2 separate regions of the Homo sapiens genome follow, and region 2 is linked to region 1. The links come from fine-mapping of genetic effects on gene expression. A gene starts in region 1. The other region holds a variant in brackets. All regions are shown on one strand. Distances are from middle to middle. Region 1 holds the start of BRD7 (bromodomain containing 7). Region 2 overlaps ADCY7 (adenylate cyclase 7).

Evidence for each region. PIP is the estimated chance that this variant, and not a neighbour inherited with it, causes the effect. A credible set is the group of variants that fine-mapping cannot tell apart.
Region 2: its variant is the best candidate, but not a certain one, in a credible set for the expression of BRD7 in whole blood (INTERVAL, PIP 0.86).

Annotation. Positions count from the first base shown.
Region 1 is chr16:50,365,036-50,378,868 of GRCh38, forward strand. It overlaps BRD7 (bromodomain containing 7), which reads right to left and starts at 3,953. Exons shown (of 17, transcript NM_013263.5): 1 at 3,691-3,953; 2 at 3,055-3,263. The coding sequence starts at 3,739. RefSeq lists silencers at 3,342-3,851, 3,882-4,131, 9,703-9,997.
Region 2 is chr16:50,300,559-50,315,483 of GRCh38, forward strand. ADCY7 (adenylate cyclase 7) reads left to right here. Exons shown (of 26, transcript NM_001114.5): 9 at 157-315; 10 at 524-656; 11 at 3,802-3,993; 12 at 4,367-4,401; 13 at 4,945-5,028; 14 at 5,219-5,291; 15 at 6,492-6,589; 16 at 7,769-7,853; 17 at 8,109-8,234; 18 at 8,990-9,088; 19 at 10,129-10,322; 20 at 11,135-11,228; 21 at 11,478-11,633; 22 at 12,332-12,478; 4 more. Among named protein-coding and RNA genes, the nearest start is that of MIR6771, 15 kb to the left of the region's middle. RefSeq lists enhancers at 9,280-9,574, 12,874-14,073. The variant C/T (reference allele first, on the strand shown) is at 8,842.

The sequences.
Region 1 (13,833 bases):
CAGAGAAAGCAAGATACTCCCGTATGCAGAGAGGTGGACACCTTTGAAAAAAGCCTAAATTCCAGAACCCTGGAAAAGCTCAGAACTGGAGGAGGCAGGGAACCTGAGAGTCTCCAAATCTCGAGACGAGCCAAAATAAGGAGAAATGCCAGACTCAGAAAACTGGGTGGTAAGACCTTCAGCCCCTGCCCCATAGTTGGCTCCAGAAACACGGATAAAACTGGCAAAATCCATCTCCTAGGAGAGGAGGATTTTTCTCTGGAGAAACTAAAAATCCCAGAGAAAACATCTGTAAGGTACAGACATTGGGGCATTCTTCACCAAAATGACTGAGTCCCTGTTAGTCACTCTACAATAAAGTCCATCAACTGACAAACTCTGTCTAGGTACAAAGCATTTACTCAGCTTTGTACAAACTGCAAAAGCTCAACAGACAACTAAAGGATGCTTTCAACAGAAAACAGAGACAGACAAATAAATGGAAGAATTTGGGAGAGAGAGACAGGGCAGGGAGCAAAAGAAAACTTAGGAGAAAAAAACAGGAAAAAACTTCGATTAATATCCTCAGAGAAAGAAAAGAATATACTGCATCTAAAACCAAGAACAGGGTGCTAATTCAAAAAGGACAGTTAGAGAACAAGAAAAAATTCTTGGAAATTCAAGGTATAAGATCTGAAATAAATCTGGAAAAGTCAGAAATTTTAGGGATGTTCCCTGAAGGAAGAACCCTCCCCCACCCCACACACACCCAGAAAAAATATGAGAAAAACATAAGAAAATTAGAGGATCAGTTCAGGAGTCTAATATCTAAAGGGCAGGAGTTCCAGAAACCAAGAAAAGAAAAAATGGAGGGAAAGAAATGAACACAGGAATACTTCAAGCACACAGCTCTGAACTGAAGGCACAAGTATTCATTGTGAAATGTCAGAACACTGAAGATAAGGGGGGAAGATCCTAAAAATTTCAAGTTAGCAAATACTGGTCATATGCAAAGGACTAAGAATCAGAATGGCAACAGACTTCTCAACAGCAAATTTAGAAGCCAGAAAACAACAAAGCAATGCCTTCAAAAGTCTGAAAGAAAATAATTTTCAATCTAAACAAGTCAAACCATCAACCTGTATGAGGGCAGAATACAGATTTTCAAACATGTTAGAACTTATAAAATCTACCCCGTGTATGCTTTCTTAGGACGTTCCTAGAGTTAAGAGTCCACCAGAACAAGGGAATGAATCAAGAAAGAGGAAGGCATGAGATCCAGGAAGCAGGTGAAGGAGAGTCCCAGGAGGCCTTGACAGCAACTAATTCAGCCTCCAGGAGACAGAAAGCTGTAAGATAAATGTCTCCAGAGGAAAATAAAAAAGGAAGTAAAGAACTCAAATGAGTTTCATAAATCTTAGAGTTTGGGAAGAATTATTAAGCAATAACCAAACAAATGAAAGCAATGATCTAACTAGTTAAGATCAGATCTATATTTGCATACTATACTTGTCTACAATCACTTTAATATTGATTTAACCAATAATTGTGATGTACCTATACCTTGAGCAAGGGAAACTGAATTCTCATCTTCCATAACATGATGTCAGTAGAAGATATAAACTGCTAAATCAGTAAATAGCAATATAAACCTTTATTTTGAAATAGAAATAAGTAGGCAAGGAAAAATACCTAAAAAGTGTCCAGAGTGGAGCAGCAGCCTGCTTTGTGTCAAAAAGCTGTGTAGTACTCTTGACTTTTAAAAATCATCTTCACGAATTACTTTACTACTATTAATTAAAAAAAACAACTGGTTACCTCTGAAGAGGGAGTCTATGTGAAGGATTGGGGTGAGGAAAACTTTTTCCATTTTGTGTACTTTTGCACCACATGAACTACTTTTAAAAAATCAAATGCATATATGGGTTTTATAATTTAAGGAAGAAAACAAAACATTACTCCTACCTAGCCAAAGGTAATAAAAACTGGGACAAAAGGGAAGGAATAGACTTAAGAAATCCCCAAAATAAGATCTCTAAGACTTGGTGACTTAGCAATGTGTTCAATCACATGGAAGAGAAAGCTCCTCTTGTATATATAAACATAAGAAAAATTACATAACTAACCTATGAAAATTTACCTTCACAATAATTGATGTAATAAGTCGTTCAGTGGCAGGTTAAATTTGGAAAGTTAATAACAGTAATAACAATGTTATTATTATTAGAGACAGAGTCTCGTATTATTGCCCAGGCTGGAGTGCAGTGGTATGATCATACCTCACTGTACCTCAAACTCCTGGGCTCAAGGGATCCTCCCACCTCAGCCTCCTGAATAGCTGGGACACAGGTGCACACCACCAGGCTCTGGAAATTTTTGTAGTTTATTTTGCAGAGGCAGGGCCTTGCTATGTTGCCCAGGCTGGTCTCGAACTTCCAGCCTCAAGCAATCCTCCCACCTCGGCATTCCAAAGTGTTGGGATTACAAGTGTGGGCTACTGGGCCCAGCCATTAATTATTATTTTGCCCAGCTTTCAAACCAAGATGGTAGCTACTCATTCTTTTCTGTTAAATGCAAATGGTTAAGAATATCAATCTCCATTACAGGTTTCTGACCAAATTTTCTCAACACACTACAACACTGTTTTAAAAGATTTAAAGTTGCTCATTACAGATTTGGCATTATAATATTTATTTCAGAACAAACTTTAAACCCCAGTAGATCCCACTCGCTTCTGAAATGACTATTTTTGACAATCCTTGAACACTGAGGCTTTCTTGAGCATGACTTTTTACCCTGCCTAGATGGAAAAACCATTCTTTGAAGCAGCTCCTCAAAATTTGGACTTAGCTGCTTCCTCACCTGATGTGCGAGTACAATTGCCTAAGAGTATAATCCAAAAACGACTTGCTGAAACTCATAGATGATTCATGTCTCTATTCTGTCCTGCTCCTCCTCAAACGAGCCAGATCTTAGAGGCGTTTGTTTTCCCCAGATACAAAGAAAATAAAATGAGGTTGGCACCTGGAAGAGGCAGTGCCGTCCGCAAAGCCAAAGCAATGTAACCACTTGTACCTTAACTCTTCTCCGTTTTCTCCCCTTTTCTTCCCCTGGAATCTGCTTCTCTCCTTTCTTTCTCTTTTTCCGCTTTCTGTCCTTGTGTTTGTCATGATCGTTTTTGTCTTCGAAGAGGCTGGAGTCGTGCCCCGAGCTGCCCGTGGAGAGTTCGGTGACTTCGTTCCCTCCTACTTTGAGGACCAGCTTCAAGGGCTTCTCTACATACTCTTAAAAAAAGAAAAGAAAAGAAAGGAAAGCGCGTCGATTAAAATCGGGGCTCTCCAGGGAGTGCTAAGGATGCAGAGCGCCAAGGCGCAGCAAGCCCGAGGCGGCTTTGGGCGCTCCGCGAAGCACCTGTTGAATGACGGACCCCGGCCCGGGGGTGCGGCGGCGCCGCCCGCCCCGAACGCTCCCAGGCCTCCCGGGCCCGCCTCACGTCTCCCCACCAGAGACCCACCGGACCAGGGGGACCCGGGTTCGAATGCCGCGGCCGCACGGGGGGCAGCGCGGCCTCCGGCAGGACGCGCCCCCTTCGCCGGCCTGGGCCTGCCGTGGGAAGGAAGGGCCCCGGGCCGCCCCGGAGCCACTGGGAAAGAGCGGAAGCCCGGCAGAGCCGCCGAGGGCCCGCCGCCCGCACCCCGGCCCCCTCCTCACCCTCGTAGAGGTGTTTGTCCGACTTGTGCTTCTTGTGCTTCTTGCCCATGTCCGACCGGGCCCCGGTGCCCGCCCCCCGCGCCAGGCCCAGGCCGTGCGGCGCCGCTTCCGGTCCGGGCCAGGCGAGCGGAGGGCGGGAGCGGGGCCCGCGAGACCCCGCGCCGCGAGGCAGGGGGGCGGCGCGCGCCGGGCGGCGCGATGCCCCTCTCGAGAAGACGGCGCGCGAGACCCGGCCGGAGCCCGAGAGCGGCGGCGGGGGGGGCGCGCGGCCGGCGCAGAGGCGGGAAAGAAGGCCCGCCGCGCGCACAGGGTGCCGGCGGCTGCGGGTGGCGGCCCCTGGCGACCGGAGGTGGTGCTGCAGCTCGCGGGCCGGGGGCGGGGCCGAGGGCGGGGCCGGGGCGGGATCCACCGCTCAGACTCTCGTCTTTCTTCCTTCCTCCCTTTCCCCTCAATTTGTCTGTCTTGTCTCTGTCTCTGTGTGTCTCTCCCTCCGTCTCCACTTCCCTCCCTTCTTTTTACTCCCTCCCTCTCTTTCTTTCTCTTTCCCTTCTTCCCTTCCTTCCTCCTTCCTTCCTTTCTTTCTTCCCTCCTTACTGCCTCCCTTCAAGCCTTCCTTCTCTCTTTTCTTCCTCCCTCATCACCCTTCCTTCTCCTCTTCCCGTCTCCTTCCCTCTTTTTTTCTTTTCTTTTTTTCCCCTTCCTCCTTCCCCCACTCTTCCTTTCTTTCCACTTTCCCTTGCTTCTGTTTCTTCCCTTTTACGATATTGACTGAACCCCATACTGGGTGCCAGACCCAGCAAACTCAGCACATTGGTGACTGAAGATTCTAATCTTAAAAAAAACTTATGTGCTGATAGGTGAAGGTTACCAGACGTTTTGACTGTCTTTACTTCTAGCTGTATGGTGCTTTGTCTGTTTTCAGATAAGCTCGTAATTATAGTCTCCTCTTAAGAAAGGATCTGTTATCAGTCATTTATACTTTAGTAACAATTTAGACCCATGAATCACCTCTCCCAGGAAGATTTGTAGCTTTACCTTGAACTTCAGTGGTGAAATTATAGGCTTATATTTTAGGACCCTATTGTTGGCAACTAATAGAAACCAATTTGAATTATTTCAAGTAAATAAAAAGGGATTTATTGGTTTACATGTCTAGAAAGGGCAAGAATAAAGCTTGCCAGAGGGAAGACAGGAACCAAGGATGTAATGCTGTTGACTGGCATGCCAGCTCGCTCTCTCTCTTGTCTCTCTGTATATCGGTCTCCATCTCCCCCCTTCTTTCCTATATGGCTGGAAACATGGCCACCATCTGCTTCTGAGGCCTCTTCTTTATAGTGTCCTGACCAACTGGGAAAAAGATCTCTTCCTGTCAGCTTCACCTGGAAAACAGTCCCAGGGAAGGACTCTGATTGGCTTGGCTTGTGTCACATGTTTTATGGGACAGGGGATGGGAGATTGATTCGGCCTGGATGCCAAATCTACCCCCTCACCCCCTTGGCCAAGAGAAGTGGAGTCTGTGATTGGCAGCTCCTGCCAGACTTCTATGGTTAGCCAGGGAAGATGAGGTTCTTCTAATGAAGAGAGTTGCTTTTTCATGAAAGCTAAAAGTGTGTGTCTATTATTTCCCTGTAACAAGCCTCTCTGGTGTCCGTGAGGCAGAGATCAGGGTGTGGGAAGAGGGGTTGTGTTGGGGAAGAGACCTTCTGCTGCTCTGAAATCAAGCCAGCTAGGCCCCCTAGGCCCCCTAAGCATAGGGCAAAGCTTGGTTTCAGCTTTTCATCCACTGTCTGTAACTTATTTTGCTTTAAGAACCACTATGCCAACTCCCACTGTGGGTCTGGCCTCTATTGTGGCATTGCCTTGCTCCAGGCTCAACCTGTGGGTTTACCTGTCTGCTCCTCATTACCCTGGGTACCTCCTTGGTACTTACAGTGCCTAGCACAGTGACTACTACTGTCCAAATGCCCCTCAGAGGAAAAAGGTCTGGTGAACTCATCCATACTATCAAGTTAGTAATTTCCCTACCCTCTCAAGAGTGATTCTACATAGGTCACAAAGTGGTCACATCAATGGAAAGTGAATAAGAGTACGTAGCAGAAAACACCTCCCAGAAAAATGTTCCTGGAAGTGGAAGCCCAAATTCATCTAGTTTTAAATTCTCAGCACTAATACCATGCCTGGCACATAGAAGGCACCAGAAAATGCTAGTTGAGCTGCACGGTCCTGGTTCGGGCAGACTCCCCTGAGAGATTTCTGCCTGCTGCCATTCATGACCTCCCAGTGAGTGTAGAATGGCCTGGAGACTGGCTTCAGAGCAATAGAATATGGCAAAGATGATGGACGTCACTCCTGTGTTGAGGATACATAAGACTTCAGTCTTACTTGCTGACCGTCTCTCTTGCCTTCTTGGCTTGCATGTTTTGATGAAGTAAGCTGCCATGCTGGAGAAGCCCATGTGACAAAGACCTGAGGCTGGGCCCCAGTTGACATCCGGCTACAACTGAGGCTATCAGTCCAACAGCCTTGAAGGATTGAATCCTGCCAGCAACTGTGTGAGCTTCAAAGTGGATCCTTCCTCAGTGGAACATTCAGATGAGACCTCAGCCCTGGCTGACATCCTGATCACAGCCCTGTGAGAGTCCCAGAAGCAGAGGCCCCAGTTAAGCTGTGCCCAGACTTCTCCCCCAACAGCCCAACAGCTCTTGAGTGAGTGAGACAGAGCTGACTTGAGTCCTGGGGTCACAGATGCTTACAGGGTCTGTGACTTTGGCATGTCCTGAGAGGGCTGCCTACCTCTGAACCTTGGAACCAGGGTGAGGTCATTGGGTGTGCTGCTGCAACAGGGTGGTTGTAAGGATCAAAGAAGATAATGTGGTCAGAGTGCCGAGAGTAATGCCTGATATGGTAGATAGTAAATGGTCAATAAATATCAGCTGCTAATACTAACTTTTAAATATTTGTGAATGTCACTTTCCTGCTCAAAACCATCTTGTGGCTCCCTGTCTCACTCGAAGTCAAAGCCAAATCTGCACCTTGGCTTTCAGGGCCGGATCTGGCCCTCATTCTCTTTCCAGCCCCATCCCCCTGCCCCCTCCTCCCTCCTGCCCCAAGCCCCTGCTTCTCTTCCCTGTGTTCAGAACACTCTCCCCTGAGCTCCTGGAGTGGCTCCTGCCCTCACATCACCTTGGTCTCCCCTGTGACCACCTCAGAGAAGCTTCTGGACCACCAACCCACACACCCCTTCCCCTCTTCCCTCAGCCTGTGCAATGCCTTGTTTCTCTCCATTGCACCTACAGCCTCCAAAATTATGTTGAATATCTCTTCCCTATCTGTGTGCGTGTCCACCATCTGTCCACTGGCTTCCCAGGTCCCCAAGGTTAGGGACTAGGTCTGTCTCACTCCTGGCTGTGTGCCCCGCACTTAGCACAGAGCTGGGCTCAGCACAGGCCCTGGAGAAATATTTGTTGGACAAATGAATACATCATAATTACTGTGTTGTGATAATAATTCTCTTCCTCCTTCCTCCCCTTTCTGGTGGAGACACGAGGTGACTGGAGCCCTCCGGGAGAGTCTGTGGAGGAGAAAGCCTGGCCACTGGGGGGTGTGGCATGCCCAGGAAATCTCTGCGCAGCTCAGCTTGGAGGTGGCCCCTCTTCAGCCTGGCCTCTCTGCTGAGGAGTTGTTGCCCAGGGTGCCTTCAGGCCTTGGTGCTCTGACAGAGAGGACGCTCTGGGACACAGCTGATGTCCTTGCCACCTGACCCTGAGGTAGAGTGTGGCCTTCATTGGTTGGGTGGGATGAGGGCTGGGCGAAACTCAGGGGCCTTGGTTCTGGGACACCCACTGGGAACCCTTTATAGCTATTCCCCTATAGCCAACAAATGAAAGAGGGCTGCTGGGTGCTGACCTATGATCTGGACAGACTAAAAGCCTCAAACATCAGGGGCTTCTGAGCCCCCTCGCCTCTGTTTGGCTGTACTCCTCAAAGCCCCCTTATGCAGCACTGATGCAGGATGGGGAACTCCTGAGACGGAGAGAATCCTTGGGCTACTAACTTCTTCTCCTGCTTTCCTTTGTCTGAATCTCAGTTTTCTCCTCTGAGGGATGGGCAGAGCCAGCCTCATGCAGCCTGTGTGGCTGGCATGAGGGTTAGCAAAAGCAAGGAGTGAGAAATGTTCTGGCACAACACAGGCCTTCCCAAGTGTAATGGGGCAGACGGTGGGTGGGAAAGGGCCGGTTCTCCTGGATACTCCATGGGGATTCCTGCCCTCTGTCCTGGGGTGGGAGGTGGCATCCCCTGAGCCCAGGCTCCCAGCAGCTCCAGCTAGTGCCTCATTTGGCACCAGGAGCAGGTCTGGGCCTTCCTGGTGCCAGCCTGATGCCAGCCTGTGAGTGCTGCTGGGAGAGGCCTCAAGAGGCTGAGGCTGGTTCAGCAGGCAGCTCTGTGGGGAATCAGTGGCCTGGGGTGATTCGCTATGACAGGTTGTTGACAGTGCAGCTTCCAGGGTTGCTCACGGTCACTGGCGGAGCAGCCCCAGCTGCTGCCTCTGAGTGAGGAAAAGAGAGAGGCGGTGGATGGCCGCCATCCACGCAGGCATGCCACATGGCCTCTGCCCACACGGTCTCAGAGCTGCTTACTGGAGGGCAGCGAGCCCAAGCCATGACACTCACGGCTGCCAACCCCAAAAGTCATTTAGCCTCAGAGCCCTTGATCAAATAAGACAGAGGCAACATCAGGACCTTCCTTCCTTCTTTCAGTTCATATTTTCTGTGTGCCTACTATGTGCTGGGGGGTGCTAGGAACACGGTGGGAGTAAAATAGACACAGCCCTGCCCTTATGGAGAGCACAGTGAGATGCATGTTAGACAGAGAACACAGACAAATATTTAATCATGGCCATGCTAACGGTTAGAAAGGAAAACAGCAAGCTGCTGTCCAGATAGTGCTCTGACCCAGGCTGAGGGCTCATCCAGGCCTAACCTGGAGGATAAGTCTTGGTTAGGTGCCCTACAAGTGGAACCTGAGGCGTGGATCTGTTGGGGTGGCAATTGGGGAGAAGCTGGGAGAGAAGCAGGACGGGGTGGGTAGAAGCAGAGAAAGAGGTGGTCCCAGCCTCAGCCCCGTGCCACAGTGGTGGCGGGGCGAGGGGGGATTGGGAACATCAACTGTCCAGGGAACAGTCCCACCCTGTGGGAGGTGGCTGGCCTTTTGTAGCCCATGGTGGGCAGCGAGGTCTGCCTGATTGTCGCCTATTACAGAGGTGACTCTAGTTTGTCCCAGGGCAATTCTCTGAGGGAGGTGTGCGGCTGCCTTCCGTGAGTGGCCAACACTCCCAGCTGCTGGTGATGCCCCTCCAGCAGGATGTGCCTTCAGGAGAGGTGAGCCAAGGGGGCATCAGCTGCATCTACTAAACAGGCAGAGAGGTCAGCATGTGCAAAGGCGAGGGAAAGTTGGGTGCAGTCAGGGAGGAGAGGAGAGCAGGTTTGGAGCAAGAGAGATGATGGGGACTGTGTCTGGAAGAAAGGCTGGGCTGGGCAGAGCTTTTCAAGGCATGGCAGAGATGCTTGATTTTATTTGGGATGCCCATGAAGGCAGTGGACGTGGGTGCATGGCCATATTGGCAATTTAACAAGAGCGCTTTGGCTTCTGAATGAAGGAAGAATTGGAGTGGGTTAGGAGACCGGGCAGAGAGACCAGCTTAGAAGTGATGTGGTCTTCAAAGGGGAGATGGGGGTGGCTTGGTCTAGCGTGGATGATGTGGGGATGGTGCAATGGGATAATTCAAGAGTTATGTAGGAGGAAGAACTTAGGAGGGGTTAGGGATGCCTATGCAGAACCCAAGAGGAGAATCCAAGTAGGAAGGTGAATGCATGTGTCTGGGGCTTGGAAGGGAGGTGAGACCTGAAAATAGATTTTTGGCATAGAGATGTCTTTGGAACCTCAGGAGTGAATGAGACCACCCAGGAGGAGAGAGTAGAGTGATCAGAGAAGATGGAGCCTTGAAGAGCTTCAATATTATCTAACAGGTGAATAAAGGATGAGGAAGCAGCAGAGGAGACTGAGGAGGGGGAGGGAGGCAGGAGGAGAAGCAGGAGAGTAGGACACCCAGCAGGGGAGGACAGAGCACTGGAGCCAGGTGAGGGCAGTGGCGGGCTGAGAGTGTGTAGAGGAAGGAAAGCTCGGCCAGGCTGCAGGGAGCCTCTAAGCACTGGAAGGGCTGGGGGAGGGTGGATCAGACAAGTAGACTTGTGCATGCAAGGCCACTGAGGTGATGCTGGAGAGTGGGAGGTGTGATGAGACAGAGATACAGAAGGGAACACTGAGGCCTTGAATGACAGGCTGTGGGGTGTGGACTTCCCCCTGTAAAGTGGGATAAACCAGATGAAATGGTCACCTTGGAGAAAGCTGGGCATTTTCCAGGAGCCCCAGGCTGGGGACAGACCATGAGCAGCTCAGAAATGATCCTGCAGGCCCGGGCTCCCGGTCCATCATGATTCCTTGGAGTACTGCCCTGCGGACGGGGCCCAGGATTAAATTCCCTTCACAGAAAGTCACTATGTGTTTGATAAACTCTTATCAGACTGTGGCTGTGGGCTTGTGCCATGTCACCCAGATCTCTAATTTCATAGTCCTGGCTCTGCCAAAGACTGGCTGTGAAACCTGGACATGTCTCTCCCCTATCTCCATCTAAACAGGGCTGCAGAAAGAGGAGGAGTCAGTCAGATGCGCTGACTCATGCCTGTAATCCCAGCACTTTTGGAGGCTGAGGTGGGAGGATTGCTCAAGACTGGCTTGGGTGACGTAGCGAGACCCCATTTCTATAAAAAATTAAAAATTAGCCAGGTGTAGTGGTGCATGCCTGTGGTCCCAGCTACTCAGGAGGCTGAGGCAGGAGGATCACTTGAGACCAAGAGGTGAAGGCTGCAGTGAACTATGATTGTGCCACTGCATTCCAGCCTGGGCAACACAGTGAGATCCTGTCTCAAAAACAAAAAAAAAGGTAAAAAGATAAAGAAAGAGGACTCGACTGGCTGCTTTCAAGCTGTTGGTTCTAGGGAAGCACTTCTGACGCTCTGTCAGTGTCTGATAAAGACTTTGTTTTTAAAAATATGTGTGTATTTTAGGTTTTTCTTGATTCAGTTATTTAGTTTTAAACCTATTTATTGCCTAAGTAATTAATGTTTGTTATAGACCAATTGAAAATACAAATAGGTGTAAGGAAGATATTTCAAATTGCTCATAATCTCACCACTTTCTGTAATAGTTTGGTATATGTCATTCCAGATATTCTCCAGTGGTGTTTTTTTTTTTTTTATTAGAGTTTGGTGGTGATTCTTTTCTCCCTGCCTCAGGGGATAGATTCATGATACCCCTTTATTGAGCCTGGCTACTCAAAGATTGGTCCAGGGACGGCTGCATTGGCAGGACCTGGGAGCTTGGTAGAGATGCAGAGTCTCAGGTCCCACCTCAGGATTGTAGAATCGGAATTCACATTTTAAACAAGATTCCTGGGTGATTCATATATGTGTATTAAAGTTTGAGAAGCACTATTCTGGAACATTAGCTTATACTTAGACTTAATTTTCTTGGACAAGAGAAAGGGAACATTTCTGAAGTTGGAACAACTAGACATCAAAAGGAGACCCTTTGACAAAACCAGATAAACTAAAAGGTTCTTTTTTTTTTTTTTTTTTTTTTTAACTCATAAGCCCACAGAAAGATGGAAAATATCTGAGGGACTTTTCATTTACTTTATTTATTCATTTATTTTAGAGATGGGGTCTTGCTGTGTTGCCCAGGCTGGAGTGCAGTGGCTATTCACAGGGGCGATCGTAGTGCAGAACAACCTTGAACTCTTGGGTGCAAGCAATCCTCCTGCCTCAACCTTCCAAGTAGCTGGGACTACAGGCGTGTGCCACTGCACCTGGCGTTTACCCCAATTATTTAAAAAGTTTCTTTTTCTTTCTTTTTTTCTTTTTTTGAGACTGAGTCTCACTCTGTTGCCTAGGCTGGAGTGCAGTGGTGCAATCTCGGCTCACTGCAAGCTCCGCCTCCTGGGTTCATGACATTCTCCTGCCTCAGCCTCCCGAGTAGCTGGGACTATAGGTGCCCGCCACCAAGCCCAGCTAATTTTTCGTATCTTTAGTAGAGACGGGGTTTCAACGTGTTAGCCAGGATGGTCTCGATCTTCTGACCTCCTGACCTCCTGATCTGCCAGCCTCGGCCTCCCAAAAAAGTATTTTTAACTATTAAAAAAGAACAGTGATAGAATGCTAGAACTTATTCCTTCTATCTAGTAATTTTGTATTCATTAACCAACTTTTTTTTGTGTTTGTTTGTTTTTTGTTTTTGTTTTTCCTGTGAAGCTTTTATTTTGGGCAGAGGGCAGGGAGCTCAGTCCTTCCTGGCAGCTGCTTTCTTCATGGCCGCCAGGACGTGGCTCAGCTCCTCTCTCTTCGTCTTGGCATAGATGTGTGTTAAGCAACCTCTTTCTATCTGCCTTCCCTATTCTTCCCAGCCTCCAGTTACTACCCTACTTCCTGCTCTAGCCTACCCTCTACTTCCATGAGATCAACTCCTTTAGCTTCCACATATGAGTGAGGGCAAAGGATTTAGCCTTTAATCCTGCAGTATTTCTCTTTCTGTGCCTGGCTTATTTCACTTAATGTCGTGTCTTCCAGGTCACCCATGTTATTTCAAACAACAGGATTTCCTTCTTTTTTTAAGGCTGAGTAGTATTCCACTGTGTATTTGCTTTATCCATTCGTCTGCTGATGGATATTTAGCTAGATAGGAGGAATACATTTTAGTGTTCTTTGGCACTGTAGGGTGACTATAGTTAATAATAATTTATTGTATATTTCAAATAGCTAGAAAAGAAGATTTTGAATGTTTTCAACACAAAGAAATAATAAATGTGTAAGGTGATGGATGTGCTAATTACTCTGATTTGATCATTACACATTGCATATATGTATCAAAATATCACTCTGTACCCCATAAATATGTATAATTATTATGTATCAATTATAAATAATTTTTAAAAAGTGATTGAAAACCTCCCACACATGCAAATATATAATAAAATTTTATACATTGGAAATGAATAACACATTGACATTTGGGTCTTCATTGATTGTAAAAAGTAAATGTTAAGAACTTTTTTTTTCTTTTTTTTTTTTTTAAGATGGAGTCTCACTCTGTCTCCTAGGCTGGAGTACAGTGGCATGATCTTGGCTCACTGCAACCTCCGCCTCCCAGGTTCAAGTGAGTCTCCTGCCTCAGCCTCCCGAGTAGCTGGGTTTACAGGCATGCACCACCACACCCAGCTAATTCTTGTATTTTCAGTAGCGACAGGGTTTCCCCATGTTGGCCAGGCTGGTCTCGAACTCCTGACCTTAGGTGATCCACCTGCCTTGGCCTCCTGAAGTGCTAGGACTACAGACGTGAGCCACTGTGCCCAGCCAAATGTTAAGAACTTTTAACGTAAAAGATAAAACACATTTGCACTAACAAGCTACTGCTTTTATTTCTCACACATAGGCATTCTGCTTAAAACTTCATTTGAAACAAGAAGCTGCTGAAAATCTTTGAAAACCACTCAGTGATAGGACTTCCAGGGGCCCTTCCACGGCTCTGTAATTCGGTTAGATAAAACATTATAATGATCAGATGTTTTTATTTTTAAAATACACATCTTTTAGCAGACCATAAAGCCACACACAGATTAGTTGAGCTTGTTGTGTGGCTGGATAAAGTCAGCTGGAACTTGATTTAGGGGAAGAACACTGAACTGGAGATCACAAAGCCTGGTTCTCATTCTTGCATTGCTTGGCCTCCATGTGACAGTCAGAAACCCATCCCTAATGAGGTTGAGCTTCAGGTGTGGCTATATCCAGGTGCTCAAATGATGTCCCCAAGATTCAGGCTTTCTCTCTCTCTGGTCTACTTCCTTCTGCCCTGGTCCCATCCTCAGACAGGCTCCATTGGCCTCTAGAAGCTCCCAGATGATATCCTCATAGATCCCAGTCCAGAAAAAAAGGGAATGTGCCTTTCCCCAGTGGCCCATCAAAAGTCACAGGGCTATGTGATTGGACTGGTTTATATCATGTACCCACCTAGAGCCTATGACCATGAAGGGGT
Region 2 (14,925 bases), 64 kb before region 1:
TGAAGAGGCAGCCCCATCAGGCTGAGAACATTCTCTCCCGTGGGCTGAGCGCCTGCCCTGTTCCCACATGCTGCCCTGTACCCACCCCACACCTGGGAGCTTCAGCCTGTCCCAGGGCTTAGGCAGGGCTGGGGTGACTGGGCCACTCTGCCCCAGGCAGGTGCGGGAGGCCACGGGCGTGGACATCAACATGCGTGTGGGCATACACTCGGGGAATGTGCTGTGCGGGGTCATCGGGCTGCGCAAGTGGCAGTATGACGTGTGGTCCCACGACGTGTCCCTGGCCAACCGGATGGAGGCAGCCGGAGTACCCGGGTGAGGCTGGGCTGGGTAGCCGCAGGGACAGAGGCCTGGGGCTGGCTGTGGATGGAGGGTTCTGCGGTTGGGGGTGGGGGTCAGGTGTGGAGGGAGAGATGAATGTAGAAAAGCTGGCCTGGGGCCCAGGCCTGCCTGCTGTGCATCCCTGGGTGGATGCCAGCCCTCTCTGGGCCCCAAGGCTCTGCCTGACTTGGGTCTCCCGTAGCCGGGTGCACATCACGGAGGCCACGCTAAAGCACCTGGACAAGGCGTACGAGGTGGAGGATGGGCACGGGCAGCAGCGGGACCCCTACCTCAAGGAGATGAACATCCGCACCTACCTGGTCATCGACCCCCGGGTACGAGGGCTCAGAGGCCGCAGCTGGGGGGGACCCGGAGGGACTGGAGGGGCCCTGGAGAGCCTGGCCCGCACCTTGGAGGAAACCCCCATGTGGAGGGAGAGGTGGGGAAGGGCCCTGCCTGGGCAGGAGTGAGCTCCCTGTTCCCAGGCACATTCTAGGCACCGAGTAGCCACTCCCTGGGCCTCCATTCTTTTCTATGTGATGGGAAAACAGCGCCTGCCTCACCAGAAGGAGCTAATCCGAGCGAGGCCTTCACAGTGCGCCTGGCACGTCACAGCATTCTATGTATTCTCGTCACTCTTGGTTTATTTTCCATGAGGTGGTTATTAATCTCCCAGATTTCCGAGAGACACACTTTCAAAACAAGCTTTGGATGAAACTCAGGAAAGCAGGGAGTGGCCTGGGAGCCACTGGGCAGGAGCCTCTGAGTGTCCTGGGTGCTGACTGCAGGTCCCCTGGTGGCTCCAGGACCCCACGGTGGAGGAGGCAGTTCCACTGCCCTGGCCAGGTGGGGCCCGCCTTGGCCTGTCTGCTGCCCGACCCTGGCCTGCTTCAGGGAGTCCGGCACGTCTGGCCACTTCTCTGTGAATCATCCATGAGGCTTGCTCAAGAATGTCGGCCCAGCCAGCGAGTGGCTCCTTTCACTCTGGTCCTCGCTATGCCTTGGGGCTGGCCCGACTGCCAGACCCTGGGGGACCAAGGGCTGGCCTGTGAGCCTCCCTACACATCTGCTGGCCTCACTCTGCCCCCAGCACCCCCAGTGCTGCACCATCCATACTGAGCCAGCATCTGGGAAAACCCCTGCCGGTACCTGTGTCCCATTCCACCACCCTCCTAGAATAGGGCCCTGATCCTCGCCCTGTACCCCGGCCCTGGCCCCGCCCCTCCAAGCCCCTTCCCCTGCTCTCCTGTCCCCCTCACCCCACCTGGTCTCCTCCTGCCCTTCCACTACCAGGGTGGTGGCACCCGCAGGTCCCTGCACTCAAAACACTCCTCCCTCCGTCCCTAATGCCCTTGCTTGTTTATCCATTTTCCTTGTCTGTTGTCAGCATGAGTGCCATGCCGGGGGGCTCCTCCTCTCCAGGCTGCAGCCCCCCACCCCGTGCTGAGATGGATGCCCGGCTCGAAGCTAGTGCTCAGATAGCCCTTGAATGAGTGAAGCAGAGCTCCTCACCCAGGAGGCTCCAAAATCCACCCCCGCAGGCTGCCAGGTTGAGCAGGGAAAACTGCAGGCTGCCTGGGCCGACTTGAATTTCAGATAACTGTAAATCATGTTTCGCATAAGTGTTGCACGCAGTACTCAACTGGACAGTTGTATTTATTTGGCGGCCCCACCTTCCCCCCACCCCACCCTACCCCACCCTCTTTTTTGTTTAACTTCATTTATCCACGCAGTTGAAAGTTCAAAAGGTGTGAAGGGCGTGTTGTAGAAAGACTCCTTGTCCCCAGCCGGCACATCTCAGAGGGGACCTGTGCAGTGAGTTTCTTGTATTCCCTCCACAGGGATTTTCACGGACACCGAGTGAACTGCGAGTCCCCCCACCCTTCTTGCTAAGGTGGCAGTGGCGGGCCCCATGGTCGCGCACCCTGCATTTTTCCTACCTTGGGGACATCCCTCCTGTGTGCAGGGTGCTCGTCTGTAGCTCCTGTTTTTGACATGGAGGTGGATTTTCTGCACTGGCTTCTATGGGCTCTGCCTTACGCCATTGCTGTGTGGCCTGGCTGGGGCAAGGTGGGCTCCTGTGGACTGGATGGTGGCTGCAGCTGCCCCCGTGGGGCTCATACCAATGCCATGCCCATTCCGAGTAGGCATGTGTTTGCTCAGAACTGAGGAATCTGATTTTTGTTTCTGCTTTTTATTTGTTTCTCAGGGGGCTGGGGTGTCTGGATTCTCTGCTAAGTGCCAGTGACCTTGAACTTGAGTGGCTAGGTGCTGTGTAGGCAGAGTTGTCACAATGGAGGAGGGGACAGAGAAACGCATCCACCCCCACCAGGTTGCTCACCACAGGGCCAGCGCGCTCTTCCTGCTCTGGGACACTCACCGAGGCTGAATTCCACGTGGCTCCCGTGGCTAGGCAGATAGATGCAGCTAAGGGCTTAAAAATGTTTCTATCCCAAAAGGAGGTGAGAGGTTTCCAGGAAAGTTGCGCTGTGGCTTATCGAGTGCTTGTAGCTGTGGAGGCTTGTCCATGGGGTGTTTGTGGGGCCCTAGGAGACAGGACTTCCGGAGGCAGAGGAATGTTTCAGGGGCTAAGGAGAGACTCAGCAGACCTGGAGCCCGCTTAAGCTCATCTCTGGTGGCCTTGTGGGTCTTTCTCTTCCCTGTCCCTTTTCCAGTCCTGTCTGGCCACCCCAACTGGCGAAGGCCTCAGGCATGTGTTCTTGGATCGGGGTGGGGGTCTCAGGTCTGTGGCATGAGTGGGGGCGGGTAGGGCTGGCCGTGCATTCAGGGCCTGGCTGAACTACTGAGTGTCCAGCATGAGGCTGGGTCTCGCAGGCACGTGGCAGGTCATGGCCCTGTGCCATCTGCGGTTGGGGGCCACACAAGTGGAACTCCCTGGATCGCTGCCCTGGGGGTTGGCTGGCCTCTGGCTTGGCCATTTCTCGGGGCGGCTAGCACCCCTCTTCCTCCTGGCTGCTTCTCACAGGAAGGAGCGAATGCGTGCCGGCCACACGTGGGAGGGCAGGGTAGGATGCCTGTGGCTTTCCCAGGCGCCTCCTGGGGAGGAGCTGATGGGTGCTCAGGCCCCAGGGACTCTCTGGTTCCAAGGAGCCTCAAGGGCAGTGGGGCCTCGGGCTTGGGACCCAAGCCCTGCCTCTCTCCCTGGGGAGGCAGAGCAGGGTATGGGGTTGGGTACAGTGGTGGGTACTTGCTAGCCTCTTCTCGGCCTGGGGAAAGGCCAGGGCACCGAGCTGGGACCCCATATGGCCTGGCCTCAGAGTGCACCAGGCTTTGGCTGGCTAGTCCCCAAGGGCAGCCGCTCTCCAAGGGGACTGCGGGTTGAGCAACTTCTTTGCTGTTTATTTTTTCACGGGCTCAGGGCGGCGTCACACTTCAGGGAGAGCTGGATGGGGATGGCGGCCCCTTCCTGGGCCGAGAGGGGAGGAGGTGGCACAGGCCCATGTCCATGTCTGCCCGCAGAGCCAGCAGCCACCCCCGCCCAGCCAACACCTCCCCAGGCCCAAGGGGGACGCGGCCCTGAAGATGCGGGCGTCAGTGCGCATGACCCGGTACCTCGAGTCCTGGGGGGCGGCACGGCCCTTTGCACATCTCAACCACCGTGAGAGCGTGAGCAGTGGTGAGACCCACGTCCCCAACGGGCGGAGGCCTAAGGTAGGTCCCCCTCCCACCCAGAAAGCCAGGGATTGGGGCCCCAAGCCAGGAGCAGGAGAGTGAGTGCTGAAGATCTCCTGCCCTCTCAGCCTCACTGTCCCCATCTGTAAAATGGCCACAGCCTCTGCCCCACCTCCTGGGGCTGGAGAGGAAGCAAAGACATTTGGAGAATACTCCGGGATGGCCAGGAACATCCCTGTCCTCCTTGATGCCTGGACCACGCTCAGCTATAGTCAGGATGTCTGTGGCTTGGACGACCCCGACACCTTGTCCTGTGTATCAAGTGCCGGAGGGGCTGAACCTGGCCCAGCAGTGGCCTTCAGGGCCCAGTGTTCTGGGGAATGACTGTATCCTTTCCTCCCTTCCCTTTCAGAGCGTTCCCCAGCGCCACCGCCGGACCCCAGACAGGTGCGTGCCCTGCCCTCCTGGCCAAGTCCTGCTGCAGCCACCTCCTCCAAGCAGGCTGCCCTGAGCAGCCTCTGTCCAGTGGGCAGCTCCGCAAGGCCCAGCCCAGGACCTCTGTGAAGTTGGCCAGGGCTTGGGTCAAAGCATTTCTAGGAACCAGAGTTTCCTGGCCCCTGGCCCTTCTGCATGGCCACATGATGGAGCACCTGTTGTATGGTGCCCTGGCGGGGTCAGTGGAGTCGGTGGAAGGGAAGGAGATGACTGTGGGTGTCCTGGTCCCCATGCCAATCCCGGGGGTGTAGCCGAAGATGCCTTAGACTGGGGCTCGGGTCTGCCCTCTGCCTCTGGCTTGGCTGCTGGCCAGCTGGGCCATGCTGGGCCATGCTGGGTCCTCACTCGCCCTCTCTGGGCCTCAGTGGGACCCACCCATTCCTTCACCATCCCACCTGAGGTTCTGGGACCCCACTGGTGTCTACGTCCACACCCTCCTCTGGGAGAGTTGGAGGTGGTCGCTGTGCTGATGCAGTTGTGGGTATCTGATTCCAGAAGCATGTCCCCCAAGGGGCGGTCGGAGGATGACTCGTACGATGACGAGATGCTGTCAGCCATTGAGGGGCTCAGCTCCACGAGGTGAGGTCTGAGACCTCTGTCCACCCCCCTCTCCTCTCCCCCTCGGATAGGGGTCCCCTATATGGGCAGGCCCATCTCATACCCCATGCCTGGTGGCCCAGCCTTGTTCCTTCCCCCTGCCTGCTGCCACCTCCTGAGGGAATGGACCCCTTCCCAGCCCCCATCTCACCGCAGCTGCCCCCGCCCACAGGCCCTGCTGCTCCAAGTCCGATGACTTCTACACCTTTGGGTCCATCTTCCTGGAGAAGGGCTTTGAGCGCGAGGTGAGGGCCCCCAGCAGCCTCCTCCGCAGAGGGACGGGGTCTCCAGGCCTGGGGTAGGGTGGGGGACGCAGGTCATGGGGCAGCCTGCGTTCCCAAGACCGGCTAGGGGAGGGGCACTGAGAATCCACAGCTGCTCCTGGGCGGGGGGCAGGGGCGGGGCCAGTGCAGCACCAGCCTGGCTCTCTCCTGTCGGCTTCATTCCATGACCCAAATGCACCATCAGAGATTTGCCTCCATGGGTCTGCAAGACTTTTGCTCCGTCCAGTGCCAAAGCCTTAGCAGATCCTGGCATGGATGCCTCAGGCTGATGGCACCGGCCTTGCAATGAGACGAGAACCCAAAGCTCAGTTATCAGTGTCCTGTCTTGCTGCTATGAGCTTTTTGTACTGATAACGACCATTTCTTTACTGAGCGCCTTCTGGGTTCTGGCAGCATCCTCGGCACCCACATTATATAATTTAACCGTCACAACGGCCAGCCCAGGGGTGCTGCTATACCACTTCACAGAGAGGAAACTGGCTCTCAGAGGCTTCAGAGCCTGTCCCCAGCTTCAGGTGTGGCTCCCTGAGTTGGGGGCTTCCTAGGTGAGGTCACGAGGAAACCTGCTGGCCAAGTGACCTGGCAGGGTGTGGCCAGTGTGGCCAGGGCCGCCGAGCCTGCTTTCCTTCCCTGCAGCAGGAACCCTTCTGGGGCTGTGATCCTGCGATGGTGCCTGGGTGGGAGTGGGGGTGGGGGGCGGGATGGTCTCCCTACCTGCCAGCTTCTTGGTTTGAGGTGAGGACAGCCCCGGAAGCTCAGACTTGGCTCCTGTCCATGTACTTGGGGCCATGAGCTCTGCAGGGACCTTGGAAAGAGAGAGACGGGTGGTGTAGGGCAGGGGAAGGCATTGTCTTCAAACAGGAAAAAGCTGAGAATGGAAACAGGCGAAACTTACCAAGTGTAACATCACCTGGAACTGAAGGAGGGTGGGAAGGTTTTAATTATTTTAAAAATAGAGATGGGGACTCACTATGTTGCCCAGGCTGGTCTCAAACTACTGGGCTCAAGTGAACCTCCTTCCTCGGCTCCCAAAGTGCTGGGATTACAAGCGTGAGCCACTGTCCCAGCAGGGAGGTGTTTTTTTTAAAGCTGATTCACTGGAGGCAGGGTGGGCAAGTGGCACTGCTGGTGGCCACCCCTCACAGTCCCTGCTGCCCCCAGTACCGCCTGGCACCCATCCCCCGGGCCCGCCACGACTTTGCCTGCGCCAGCCTGATCTTCGTCTGCATCCTGCTCGTCCATGTCCTGCTCATGCCCAGGTCAGTTGCAGGGAGGGGTGTGGGGGTCCGGCCTGCTGGGATCCAGGCTGGAAGGTGACTATGAACCTGCAAGGAGCTGTGTGATTTGGGCTGGAAGGGGTCGGCTGCTGGGGTCCTAGCAACTGGACCAGGGGCTGTGGCAGCACACCTTGAGTTACCAACACTTCTTTTTAATAGAATGTGTGTTTTCTGCCACAGGCCTCCCTACTCCCTAACGTCTCTCTCCTCAGCCACCTGTCATATGTGTGGCCTGCATGCATTTTGGTTGACAGCCCTTGCCTTAGGTGTTTGGAGTGCTAGGAGGATAGACTCTGAAAACTGTAGGCGCCATCCTTTTTCTCTTATATATAGGGAAATTGGGGCACAGAGGATTAATGATTTATCCAAAACTCACTGAGATTCATGCTTCTGGCTCTAGGGCCCTGCTGGTGGGGTATAGGGATGAGGGTGAAGTCAGAGGGAAGGGGGATCTAAGGTCAGCTACTTGGTGCTTTCTAGAAGAGCAGTTAGGCCGAAGCATCGACCAGGATTGTGGTTTTGGCTATGCTTACTAAAGACATAATAGGGAGGCTGTGCGTGGTGACTCACGCCTGTAATCCCAGCACTTTGGGAGGCTGCGGGGCGAATCACTCGAGGTCAGGGGTTTGAGACCAGCCTGGCCAACATGGTGAAACCCCGTCTCTACCAAAAATACAAAAATTAGCTGGGCGTGGTGGCTGGCGCCTGTAATCCCAGCTACTCGGGAGGCTGAGGCAGGAGAATGGTGTGAACCTGGGAGGCGGAGGTTGCAGTGAGCCGAGATCATGCCACTGCACTCCAGCCTGGGTGACAGAGTGAGACTCCATCTCAAAAAAAAAAAAAAAAAAAAACGAAGAAAGATGTAATAGGGAATGCGTTTTTACAGTTTTTTCTGAGTCTAAAGGCTGCAGAGACATTGCTCATTTCTTATACACTTGGACCAAAAAGAGTGATATGGTCTTGACCTCAATCTTCATAATCTAGCTGGGCCCTGTGTATTGCCCATGGGGCAGCTGGGCCACAGTTTTCACAGGTCCCCTTTGCTGTGGGCAGAATACCAGGTAGGGTGGGGACAGGTGGCTGTGAGCCAGAGGATTGGTGGGGGCGGTGGTCCTGGGCAGAAGGCCCTAGGCAGAACTGAGGTTCTTCCCTCCTCTCCAGGACGGCGGCACTGGGTGTGTCCTTCGGGCTGGTGGCCTGTGTACTGGGGCTGGTGCTGGGCCTGTGCTTTGCCACCAAGTTCTCGGTAAGTGGGGAGCTCTGGCCCCGCGGGCCCTCCCTCCCTGCCTCAGGACACCTGCCTAGGAGCCCTCCCTGGTGAGCTTGGCTGGGCTGAGCCCCTGCTCTGGTCAAGGTTGGGTGCCCATCTCTCCTGCCTCGGGGACAATTTCCTGAGTGCCCTGGAGGCTTCTCCCGAGGATACCCCTCCCCAGGCTGCCAGCGACCAGCCCTCCTTGCCCAGGCTGTTGGCTCTGGGTGACTTGACCCTGTTACCCCACAGAGGTGCTGCCCAGCTCGGGGGACGCTCTGCACTATCTCTGAGAGGGTGGAGACACAGCCCCTGCTGAGGCTGACCCTGGCCGTCCTGACCATCGGCAGCCTGCTCACTGTGGCCATCATCAACCTGGTGGGTCCCGTGGTGGGGAGGCAGGCCTCCGGGGTAGAGGGAGACCTCCAGATTTGGGACGCCTACAATGTGGCCTTAAAAGCTGCCTCTGGTTGTCCTCTCCCCCGAGCTCAGCAGGTGGATGTGGGGGGTTCCCCTTTGTACACTCAGGGCTCCTCACCTTTGGGTTCTCAAATGCGGACTTTGGGGGCCCAGAGAGCTTGTGTGGCCAGCTCCAGGAGGATGTGATGCCTTGAGCCACCACATCCTGACATCCCATTCATTCTTCACGGCCCTTCTGAGACTCAGTTTCCCCTCTCAGGGATGAACCCTTGCTCCTCTGCTGGGGCTCAGAGGCTCAGTGCTGCAGAAAGCAGCCTGCGGGACACTTGTCCACCTCTCTCCCAGACCCCGCATCCTGGGCTAGGGCCTCTCCCTCACCTCTCTGCCCCGGACCCTGGGTTTTTGGAATGTGTTCCTGTGACCACCTCCCTCAGGGTCACCTGGGGAGGCTGAAAATGTTGGTCCCGGCCCCTCCCCCTGGCTGCTGCCGCTCTGGGGGTGTCTGCACCCTCATCTCCTAGCCCCTCTGCCCTCTGAACCTGACGGCTGCTGTGGGGAGTCGGCA[C/T]GGCGGCTTGAGCCGTGCTCAGAGCTGATCCCAACGTGAAACCTCAGGCTGCTGTGATACTCATGGTTGCCTGGGGCCCACCTTGCATGGCTTGGGCAGGTTCCAGCGTTCTTGTCCCTGGACTGATGGGGACCTGTCTCCTCTACAGCCCCTGATGCCTTTCCAAGTTCCAGAGCTGCCTGTTGGCAATGAGACAGGCCTACTGGCCGCGAGCAGCAAGACAAGAGCCCTGTGTGAGCCCCTCCCGGTGAGTGCGCCGGGCCCGGCTCCGTGGCCTCATTCAGAGTGGGGCTGCTGCTGCCAGAGGTGTAGTTTGGACCCTCAAAGCATGGGTGCTGACCCCTGAGAGCACAGCATGTGGAGGCTGAGAACAGCCTCTCCTGCAGAGCTGGGAAAGCAGGGTCCCATGGGCCCAGCTGGCCTCTGGCCCAAGGGAGTGAGGAGTCCTGGCCTTGGCAGGCTTGGTCTAGGCTGTGTGGGTAGGCAGGGAGTGAGGGGAGCATCTGGCCTTGTGCGGGTCTCTGGTCAGGGCACTTCCTCTCTGACAGGCCTGTCACTATTTTATACACGAGTATGCACAGCTCAGGGAGGGGCTTCATTAGGTGATGGCGCCAGGGCAGGCCCAGACAGGCTGATGGCAGAGGTCAAGGTCTCTGCCTGGAGGGCCTTGCAGACAGCAGACTCTGCAGCTTCAGAGGCTGGCAGTGCAGTGAGCTGGGCTCTAAAAGGCAGAAAGGTTCTGGGACAAGGGACAGCATGGGAAAAAGCCGAGGCGTGTGTTGGGAGCAGTGGGGTTTTGGGTGGGTTGTCTCCTGGAGAGGGAGTGGGGAGAACTGGGAGATGGAGCCGGGGGCAGGCTTGATCCAGACTGGGAGGTGCAGGAATGCCGGGGTGTGAAGAGCGTGGTCTTTATTCTGGGGGCTGGGGAGCCACAGCACAATCTTGAGCAGGGCAGAGGTCCTTTGGGAGGGTAAGCTCACAAAAACTCAGGGAGGCAGCTTGGATGCATGCACGCTCCGGCCTTGACCTTGACTGTGGTCTGTTGTATCCACAGCACCTGCATACTGTTTTTTCCCGTTTAAATGAGCTCACTTCATAAGAAATAAAACTACAGTGAAAACAACACTGGACACTCTTAGGTCTCATTGTTTTTTGTTGAGAAGGGAGGTGGTAAGGCAAGAGCGTGATGCTGAGGTGCAGGGAGTGGGGCTCTGTGGTATGTGCTGGGCTGGAGGCGAGAGTACGTGGTGGGGTGGCCCTGTCCTGAGTGACACCCTGCCCCCTCAGTACTACACCTGCAGCTGTGTCCTGGGCTTCATCGCCTGCTCGGTCTTCCTGAGGATGAGCCTGGAGCCAAAGGTTGTGCTGCTGACAGTGGCCCTGGTGGCCTACCTGGTGCTCTTCAACCTCTCCCCATGCTGGCAGTGGGACTGCTGCGGCCAAGGCCTGGGCAACCTCACCAAGCCCAACGGCACCACCAGGTGGGGTCCCGCCCGTCCCCGTCCCCATCCCCATGGTGGCCTGTTCATCTGGTGCCTGCCTGCTCGCACCAAGGGGCTTCTGTGTTCATGGGGAGTGGGCACCTTGCAGGGCGGGGCTGGCAGATGGTGTCCAGCGCTCAGAGCCGAGGAATTCACTGGCAGGTTCTTTAGGAAGTCCCTAGTCTGACAGAGGCCACCGGGTCATCCTGTTTCCAGGCCAGTCTAGTGGTGGGGAGGGAAGGAGGCTGCAGCTCTAGCTCTGTGCCTCTCAAGGCCACATCCTGGGTCTCGAGTTCTGGAAGGAGCAGTTGCTTCCATCTCTTCCTGGACAGGTGGTGATACCTGAGGCTGGCAGGGCTGGGGTGTGTGGTTCTAGGGGTTCTGGGTCCCAAGTGGATTAAGGAGCGGACCTGGCCCCCCTAAACAAAAAAGCTGGAAGCCTGGGACCCAGAACAGAACCTGCTCCTGTGGGTCTGCCCCGCACCTGCAAAATCCTTATGCCACCCATCCACCCCACCCCGCCTGCCACTGACCCTGGCTCACCAGTTCTGGGCTCCCTTCAGGCCCTCATCACAGCTGATTCTGGTCATTCAGGGGTGAGATCAGAGGTCTTCCCCACAAGGGCTCCCCCATCTCCCTGCCCACCTCTCCCCTCCCCCCTTTATAATACCCCAAAGTTGTCTTGTTTTCTACCCACCCCATTAGAATCAATTTTCCCCTTTCCCCTGGGTGTGCGTGGCACCTGGAGAGCATGACTCAGTGGGTTGGAGTGGTGAGTGCTGGGAGTGACTTGGGCCTCCCTTCGCATTCAGTGGCACCCCTAGCTGTTCCTGGAAGGACCTGAAGACCATGACCAATTTCTACCTGGTCCTGTTCTACATCACCCTGCTTACACTCTCCAGACAGGTAAGGAGGCTGGCCCCCCCCCCCCCCCCAAGCTCTGCCCACTTTTCCTCACCTCCATCTGGAGATGGGGTGGGGTGGGGTGGGCTCAGGTGGAGTAGCAGAAAAGACTAGAGTCCTGCCAGGAAAGCACTGGTCCCCTGGCCAGAGGCTCCAAGGACGCCAGGGACAGACAGACCTGGCTAGGAGATGCACAGCAGCACGGCTCCCACTTGCCTGTGGACGGGGCGCTTATGTTGCTGCCGTTTGCAGATTGACTATTACTGCCGCTTGGACTGCCTATGGAAGAAGAAGTTCAAGAAGGAGCACGAGGAGTTTGAGACCATGGAGAACGTGAACCGCCTTCTTCTGGAGAACGTCCTGCCAGCCCACGTGGCTGCCCACTTTATCGGTGACAAGTTAAACGAGGTGTGCTGAGAAGGGGCTGGGGCGGGGGCAGGGAGGCGGACGGTCCAGGCGCAGTCCGTAGGGTGAAGGTGTGGAGCTGGAGTGCATGCTGAGCTTGGCTTCCTCAGGTCCTGGCCTCACCGGGATGCCCAGGCGACAATGTATGGCATCAGCTGTGAGAGCATGGGCCTGGGGTCAGGGACCTGGGCTCAAGTGTGGTCGTGAACAAGGCACCTTGCTTTCCCAGGCCTTGGTCTTCACCTCTGTAAAATGGGCTGACAGCCCTTCCCCACAGGCTTGTGGCGAGGATGAAATGTGTGTTCAGGGGTTTGTGATCTGGACATTCTGTGTTGATGAAAATGTCTGTACTTCTACTAGTTATGTGTAGCAAGTTTTCTAGATAGGAAACGGAGGCCCAGTGAGAATGAAGACCTCCCGTTACCCTCCACTACTGCAGAGGTTCTCACCCCATGTGTACATGGAAACACCCATGGTGCTTCTGTGAGCAAAAACCAACCTGAGCCTGACCCTCCCTGGCCACCCAATTCTTAATCACCCGGTAACAGCCACCAGATGAAACTCATGCAGCCCGCCCCCCTCCCCACTCCCCGAAAGCTGGGCTGGGCAGTTCAGCAGTGCCATCTGCTCCTGAGGCCTTGCCACTCTTCCTGTCCCCTCAAGAGGTGAAGTGGTGTAAGGTCCGGTTTCTTCCCATCCAGGACTGGTACCATCAGTCCTATGACTGCGTCTGTGTCATGTTTGCCTCCGTGCCGGACTTCAAAGTGTTCTACACAGAGTGCGATGTCAACAAAGAAGGGCTGGAGTGCCTACGCCTGCTCAATGAGATCATTGCCGACTTCGACGAGGTACAGCCTCTAGCCCAGCCTTGCGCAGCAGCCCCCACCCATGCTGGAGAGGGAAGGGCGGTGGCACCTGCCATCCTAAAACCCAATTTAAAAATGTGACACAGAGCTGGGCAAGGTGGTCTATAATCCCAGCACTTTGGGAGGTCAAGGTGGGTGGATCACTTGAGGCTAGGAGTTCGAGACCAGCCTGGCCAACATGGCGAAACCCTGTCTCTACTGAAAATACAAAAAATTACAAGCTGGGCTTGGGGCGCACACCTGTAATCCCAGCTACTTGGGAGGCTGAGGCAGGAGAATCGCTTGAACCTGGGAGGCGGTTGCAGTGAGCTGGGATCACGCCACTGCACTACAGCCTGGGCAACAGTACACAACTCTGTCTCAAACAACAACAACAACAACAAAAAAAAAACGACGTGGCCCGCCTGGGGGGAACATACATTACACAGAATATAAAGGTACACATTTCTTTTTCATTCTGTTTTATGCAGCAAATAATTCGTTGGCATCTTCTCTGTGATGGGCAGCTTGCTAAGATTAGACTCAGGCCCCTTAGCTTCATTTCCAACTAAGCCCACGCTATCAACCAAGCCAAACAGAGGAAATCAGTTTGGGTTGAATTCTTTGCTGGAGACAAAGAATCTACATTCCTGTGTAGATAATGCTGTGTTTGCTCTGTGCAGACACAGATGGAAGGGAAGAGGGAGACAGTGTGGGGACGGAGACAACAGGAAGAGCAGGAGCCGCCAAGGGCCATGTCCTCACCATGCTTAGTCATGCGCTCAGCTGGCAGGGCAGCCATGAGACGTGTGTGCGAGAGGCGGCGATGGGTGGAGGGAACCCCACACCCTTCCTGAGAAGCAGGGGCAGCCTGGCTGCGGCTATGGAGTGGCGGCTGCTTCACCGCTTCCTTCTTGCCTGCAGCTCCTACTGAAGCCCAAGTTCAGCGGCGTGGAGAAGATCAAGACCATCGGCAGCACGTACATGGCAGCTGCAGGGCTCAGCGTCGCCTCAGGGCACGAGAACCAGGTACTCAAGCCCAAGAGGTGAAATTCAGCTGACTGTCCTCACTTAAAGGTGACCTGTCACCTTACTTAAAGGGTGTGCCCTTATCTCGTCCTGGGGGAGGGGCACAGGTACTTGTAGGGCTCAGCCAGGATTTTAGTGGTGGGGATCCTCAACAAGAGTGGCGCGCCAGGGCCCACTAGGTCTGGGGGCTCTGGAGATGCAAGGATCTGACCCACAGCCTGTCCCGCAGGAGCTGGAGCGGCAGCATGCCCACATTGGTGTCATGGTGGAGTTCAGCATCGCCCTGATGAGTAAGCTGGACGGCATCAACAGGCACTCCTTCAACTCCTTCCGCCTCCGCGTCGGTGAGCCCGGGTGATGGAGCGGGGTGGGGAGCCCCTGCCTCTAGGCCAGTCCACCCAGTCTGTGTGGCACAGCTGCACCTCGCCATCTATTATGAAAGGTTTTAGAAATCCCTCTGATCTGACAAGCTCAGCAGTTGGACAATTATTCTGATGTTTTGCATATAGTTAGCATATAGTTACCATTGAGAGTTTTAATAATACGTAACTACAGAAAATGGAGAACCAAAATTATTGTCTGTAAACAGGTGACCTTAAAATATAGAGAAGGAAGCAAAGTTACTAAACCTAAATAGTTGCGGGCCTGCGCTCAAAGCCAGGCCTTTGTTAATACTTTTAACAAAGTATTCTTTGTTAAAAGAGAGATTAGCAGATACAAGTGTTAACATCAAACCCAGACTTCTGAGTCTGAAAAAGAGCTGGCCGGGGAATGCCCTCCTCATACCCCAAGCCCGACTGCAACGCAGTGACTCTGGGAAGCAACCCAGCCTTCACTCTAGTTGTTTTGTCCCCGCATCCTGTGCTGGGGTATGGATTCTCTGGCCTCCTCTAAGGGCAGAAGCTTGAGGCTTTGCCTGCACGCTTGGGTAACTGTAAACATCATCTTCAGGCATAAACCATGGGCCTGTGATTGCTGGAGTGATTGGGGCCCGAAAACCTCAGTATGACATCTGGGGAAACACTGTCAATGTGGCCAGCCGAATGGAAAGCACTGGAGAACTTGGGAAAATCCAGGTAAAGACCTATTGGGGAAGCAGTTGACTAAGGGGAAAAGATCTTCCCCAGAGGTGAGGGGACTTGGACTTAAGAGCTGCTGTCTCACCCAGCAGCCATGGTTCTAGCTATCACACTCTCCAGGGAAGGCAGACTGCATGCCTGGGCAGTCTCTATCTGTCCCTACCATGACAGGTGTTCTTCCCGCCTCTGAAGACAACAGGTCTCTCTTCCTTTTCAGGTTACCGAGGAGACCTGCACCATCCTCCAGGGCCTCGGGTACTCTTGTGAATGCCGTGGCCTGATCAACGTCAAAGGCAAAGGCGAGCTGAGGACTTACTTTGTCTGTACGGACACTGCCAAGTT